2 separate regions of the Homo sapiens genome follow, and region 2 is linked to region 1. Evidence: fine-mapped expression QTL. A gene starts in region 1. The other region holds a variant in brackets. All regions are shown on one strand. Distances are between the middles of the regions. Region 1 holds the start of RCHY1 (ring finger and CHY zinc finger domain containing 1). Region 2 overlaps RCHY1 (ring finger and CHY zinc finger domain containing 1).

Region 1 (2,925 bases):
CCCATTCTTTCCTAAATTCACTCTAATCCTGATCTCTCCACTAAAACTCCTCTTGTCAAGATCACCAGTGACCTCTTCCTTGCCAAATCCAAAGGGCAATTCTCAGTTATCTTACTCAAACAGCTGCATTTGACCCAGCTGACCACATCCTCCTTGAAATACTTCACTTGGCCTCTGGTATTTAAGGGGGGGGGGGGGGCGGGGGAAGGCAAAAACTGTTTGACACCTAGGGCGAAGTATCTTAGTGCTATGATACACAGATCTAATTGTGTGGTTTATGGGGGGCACCAAGATGTTAAATTCCGTTTTAGACCTCAAGTTTGAAAGAATAATAATACATCTCAGTAGAAATTGAATCATAAGGATAGCATTCAATTTCCTTACACAACACTTGGTGGATGACCAACATTTTTAAGGAGCTTCATCCAGTTCAGTGGAGCAATGTTCGTCAAGCCATGACCTATAGAAAAGAGTTTAGGATGCACGTACAGGCCTGAGACTTGAACTTGCTTCTAATAATGAGGCAGTGACCAGCAAGGCTGACTTGTGAAGTGAAAGAACAAAAAATAATAATACTCAGATTGACGATGATAGTAACAGTCATGGTGGTATATATTTACTACTCATTTACTTCAGGGAATGCGCCCTGTTAAACACTATACACGCCCTTTAGTATATAATCCTCATACACTTTTATGAAACAGGCGCGATCATCTCCATTTTACATACGGGGTAGAGAGGAGCTAGCTAAAATCAGTTATTAAAGAGGAGAGCTAAGATTTGGGGATAGGGCGGTTGAGGTTCCAAAGCTCAAGTTTTCTAAGCAAAATTTTTGTACTGTTTCTTGCAAGGAAAATCAGGAAACTTCAATTGAATACGTGCCAATTTAAAAAAAAATACAGATTAAGAAGTTTTCTCAGAGTAACAATACATGCTTATTAGGCACTTTCCTATGCATAATTTCCTATTTAATGGCAATTACATGATTGTCTTCTTTTTTGGGACACACGTTTTCTCCTACGTCTGAACATGTGCACTGCCTTTAACATGAAGCTGGCAGGCTATAAAACTTTACCACAGGAGCTGAAATCGTATTCGGGTTCTCCACTTGCTTATTTCCATTATCTCCACTTCCATTATTTCATCACACACCTGAACGGAAAACCCCAGTACAGGCCCGGGGCTGCCTCAGTCTACTTCGGCAGCAAAAGACGAATAAGCCCACTGGCAGAGACCACTGTGCAAGCCTAATCACTTCCCAAGAAGGGTTTTGCTTTAAAGGTACGAAGCAGGTAGGAAAGGTGGGGCTTATCGCCTTGCCAAAAACGTTCTCCTCAAGAAGAACCCAGTTCCAGGTGGAAAAGGTATCCTGAAAATCAGGTTAACCTCAAACTTAAATCCAAGCCTAACCACCTGCCCAGCCCGCCCCAGCCCAACCTGACGGAAGCTTGTCAGGGAAGAGTCCATAGAAGGCGTCACCTTTAGGAGACATCCTCTGTCATAGTGCTCGCAGCCCCGCTGACCTCGCTCTTGACCGCTGGCGCCATCTTCCCGGGCCGTCGCCGCCATCTCCTCCACCTCCCCTCACATTCCACCGATCCTTCCCCCAGGATAAAAACCACGCCCAGAGAAGCTGCGCCTCTCTAGCACACCCCTCCCAGCCCCAGCGGCCACTAGCGACAATATGGCTCCTAAGCACGTGACCCGGGGCAGACGGATTTCCGGTTCCCGGGGCTACGAGGCGGAAGCGAAGGCAGACGCAGTCTCCGTCGTTGACGTTAGTCGCAGTCTTCGCTGCTAACGGTAATAACTCTTAGGTTGCCTGTTTTCCCCCAATCGCTACCCGCCCAAATCTCAGGGCGTAGTTCGGCGCGAGGTTGGCGGCAGCGGCGCGGAGACGCTGGTTGGCCCCAGAGGAAAGGACGCTCACTGGGCGCATCGTTACCTGTGACGGGTCCTCCCTCTCTCCCTCCGGTGGCGGGGAGCCTGGAGAAAGGGGCGGAGCTCGGCCCGGGCCCTGGGCTCAGCGGGTCCCGCGCGCTGCTCTTGGACGCCAGGGTGCTCGCTGGCACCTCGAAGTGCTTCTTGCTTCCTCCCTTTCCCGTTTACTTGCTGTTCTTTCAAAATATGTACTGACATTCACTATTGCCAGTCACCAGCTAAACCGTGAGGACAAAAAGTAAGGAAAAATAGACACACTCCACCATGACCTCATGGAACTAACAAGACTGGTGGAGGAGGAAGACATTAATAAGAGCAATCACTGCAATAAATGTAAGATTACAACCTGGAGAAGTGCTAGGAAGAAGTGTGTGTCCTGTGAGAGCTAATATTAGAGCAGCTCTGACAATCTGAGTGTCAGTGAGGGAAGGCTTCCCTGGGGAAGCGATGCAAGCCGAGGGCTGAAAGATGGGTAGGAGTTAGTGTGCAAAAGGCTTTGTGGCACAAAGAACATGGTACCTGTTAGAAGGTGGAAGGAAAATGTACAAGCCAACAAAATTGAAATCATACTCGGGGTACACAGCTAAATATGTTTCTCCTTATTAAAGAGTCAAGGCCCTGGAAAATGATGTAAGCAAAGCTGCAGGTGTTAGAAGAAGATATTTGTCTTTAGCTTTCTATCCTGATTTTGTGTTTCCTAAAACACCGGGAAAGGGAAAATATTCCCCTTCAGCTTTCCGGTTACTAACTCTTAACATTCTAATTTTCTTTCAGTTTTGTTATGAGTTGCTAAAATGGTGAAATGCTGCTCCGCCATTGGATGTGCTTCTCGCTGCTTGCCAAATTCGAAGTTAAAAGGACTGACATTTCACGTGTAAGATTTTGCTGTAGTTAAGCCAAATACTTTGGCCATGTTATAAAAAGCAAAAGACAGTTCTACTTAAGTCTTCAATTTTGAACTTTAGTTCCCGAGTCCTTTTTAAA
Region 2 (2,925 bases), 32 kb before region 1:
ACTCAGGAGGCTGAGGTGGAAGGATCAGTTCAGCCCAGGAAGTCAAGGCTGCAGTGAGCTACGATCACTTCACTACACTCTAGCCTAAATGACAGAGCAAAACCACTTCAAAAAAAAGTATTAGATCTGGAAAACTAGTCTTTACTTATCTGTATACTAATTGGTAATACCCAGGAACATCCTTTCCCAAATGAAGATCAGCACTGCTGCTCTGGCCAGGCCAAGGAAACAGATGAAGGGAAAGAACATAAGAAGAGTGGAATACAGAAGACAAGAAGGTGGGATAAAATAAAGATCTGAGTCCCAAACTGCTGCCTTTATCTAGGTGAATAAATTTCAACAAAAGAAGAAATAAATGTGCCAGAACTCTTAGGCTTTCTAGTTAAAAGGCTAACTTCCTTATTCAAAGAAGATTCAAATAGCTCAAAGTTGGAAATACAACTGGTGCTCAATAGGTACTTATCAACTGATAAATGTACATTTTACATCCTAGCCTAATGGTAAAGCTATTACGGAGATAACAGTGTCAAAGTCGGCTGGATCATCAAACATATTTGTTAACTTTGTTCCTGAAGTAAGAGGTATATTTAATTCCACTACATGAGCCCAAAAAAGTATTATGAAATCAGAGATCTTGCCAGGAATATCCCATGCCCTTCCCACTCATCCATCCCCTATTTTCACACGCTTAGGGAAGAAATATTCTATTCATTTACAATAAGACATCCACTCCTTGCATAAAGAAAAATGAGTACATTGATCAAATATGATGAACAATAGAATGTACTGCTGTGAGGACAAGGACTTTTATCTTTATTGTTCACTGTTGTCTCTACAGCATCTAGAAACATATCTGCCACATAGCAGTTGCTCAATAAATACTTGCTAAATGAAGGAATGAATGACTCTTTGAAGAAATAATTTTGGGCAACCTAAAAAAAACTGTTTTCAATGTTGATGTTTTTATTAAGGCTTTGGAAGAGTCTTATTATTTTACATAATAATTTTCCCAACTACTTTTATGGAATACCTCAAAAGAAAGAAAATTTCTTTTACATTATAGAACTGATGATACTGCCCTAATTGAGCCAAACATAGAAAACTTTGGAAAAAACTTTCTATAAAACAGTTTCAATATAATTTTATTAGCAGTTATTACATCAAAATTCACATTTAGAGGATCCAGAGGACTGTCTTAGAAAATTCTAAAGCATATTTAATTAGGTTTTAACAGTAAGGGAGAACTTAATATAACACAGCCCTTAAAAAGTCAAGACTACTACTGAAAATTAAGTGCAGTTCTATCAAGAACTAGAAATGAACTGCACG[C/T]GTAGTGTCACTTAAAGCAAAGCTTCATGAAAATATAATACACTTCTATGAATGTATCAGTGGCAAACATCATTGGCTTCCAAAAAACTGACACTAAAGGAATTTCCAATCAAAACACAAGCACAGTGGCTTTCATTCAATATAGAGCTATGATAAGTCTATCAAGAGACCCTGAATCCTTACGTACTTGTAATATGATTTTATGCTGTGACACTAGTACAAAACACATCAACTCTAATGCATAGATGACGACACATGATAACACGATACCAAGGAAAGCCTTTTTCTATATCAGAAAATGCCAAGTTCTCCAGTACTGTGTAGGCTCGTCATTGCTGATCCAGTGAAATTCTACGTCCTCCAGCTTGAGCAGTATTATAGGATTCACAAATCTTACATTTCATGCCTAATATATGAAACTGAACAGTGGATCGTCCATTACAGTCATTGCAGAGAATCTGAAAAGAGATTAATTCAAATTAAGTATTTTAAACCTTATAAATACAAGTAGCATTGTCTACTCATAATCCCTTGAAAATCATATTAAAGATGTGAAAATACATACATAAGTCTAAAAATTTCCAAAAGTAGAAATTTCTTCTTATTTTTTCACTGAAAACTCTAAAAAGCTATTAAGGTGGCTCTGAATTCAGAAAATGAAAAGGCAGATTTGAGCAAAAAAAAAGCTTATTTTAAAATAGTTTCCAAATATTAAATAGTATAAATAGTACAAGCAAGAAAATTAACCTAGGCATAATCAGATGAATACCTGATACTTATAATTCAAAATAACAACATGATTTCATTATTTTTCAGTCAGAAATGTATCTCAATTAATAAAACCAAAATTTTTACACAAATAATATTTTTGCTTATTTTTTAGGTTTAGTATACTGTTCCCTGTCTTCTCTGCCTTAGGAATGAATTAAATTCCAAAAAGAGTGTTCCTAAAATTGAGTAAACAGAGAGGCTCTTCGCTCATCCCTACAATAACAATAAGATGCCGTTTAAGAATTAATTTCTTCTAGTGCTAAGTAAGAACCTGAAAAATAACAAAGGTGTTAACCTGAAAATCAATACATTACTATGCAAGAAAAGCACTAGTTTTTGAATAGTCACACTATAATAAGCAGAAAATTTCCAAATTTGCTCTAAATTATAATTTGGAAAATAATTATTTAAAAAATATGATCTAAATGGAGAAAGTGGATTAGTGGTTGCCTAGGCCTGGGGCGTTAGGGAATGACTGCTAATGGGTATGAGTGTTTCCTTTTTGGGATGATAAAAATGTTCTAAAATTGTGGTGATGTTTGCATAACTACATGAATATTTTAAAAAGCACCAAATTGTACAATTTAAATGAATGAACTATATAATATGTGAATTGTATCTTAATGAAGCCATTATTTCCAAAAATTATCTACATGGAACATAGCACACTTCGGCCTCTAGTCAATCACATGATTATCGGTTAGTATTCCAAAAGTGATTTTTCATTGCCCTAACAATTATCCACATGAATTATGAAACACTCCAGTGTAAATAAAACAAAAAATAATTTTCATTTGGCTTTGCTACGTGGTTTTTATCCTCGTA

What was found. PIP is the estimated chance that this variant, and not a neighbour inherited with it, causes the effect.
Region 2: its variant is fine-mapped to the expression of RCHY1 in whole blood (TOPMed, PIP above 0.99).

What each region holds. Positions count from the first base shown.
Region 1 is chr4:75,512,718-75,515,642 of GRCh38, forward strand. RCHY1 (ring finger and CHY zinc finger domain containing 1) reads right to left here and starts at 1,686. Exons shown (of 9, transcript NM_015436.4): 1 at 1,480-1,686. The coding sequence starts at 1,569. THAP6 (THAP domain containing 6) reads left to right here and starts at 1,756. Exons shown (of 5, transcript NM_144721.6): 1 at 1,756-1,803; 2 at 2,716-2,815. The coding sequence starts at 2,736. RefSeq lists enhancers at 795-1,725, 1,412-1,891, 1,726-2,656, 2,232-2,451.
Region 2 is chr4:75,480,880-75,483,804 of GRCh38, forward strand. It overlaps RCHY1 (ring finger and CHY zinc finger domain containing 1), which reads right to left. Exons shown (of 9, transcript NM_015436.4): 9 at 1-1,787. The coding sequence ends at 1,659. Among named protein-coding and RNA genes, the nearest start is that of RCHY1, 32 kb to the right of the region's middle. The variant C/T (reference allele first, on the strand shown) is at 1,330.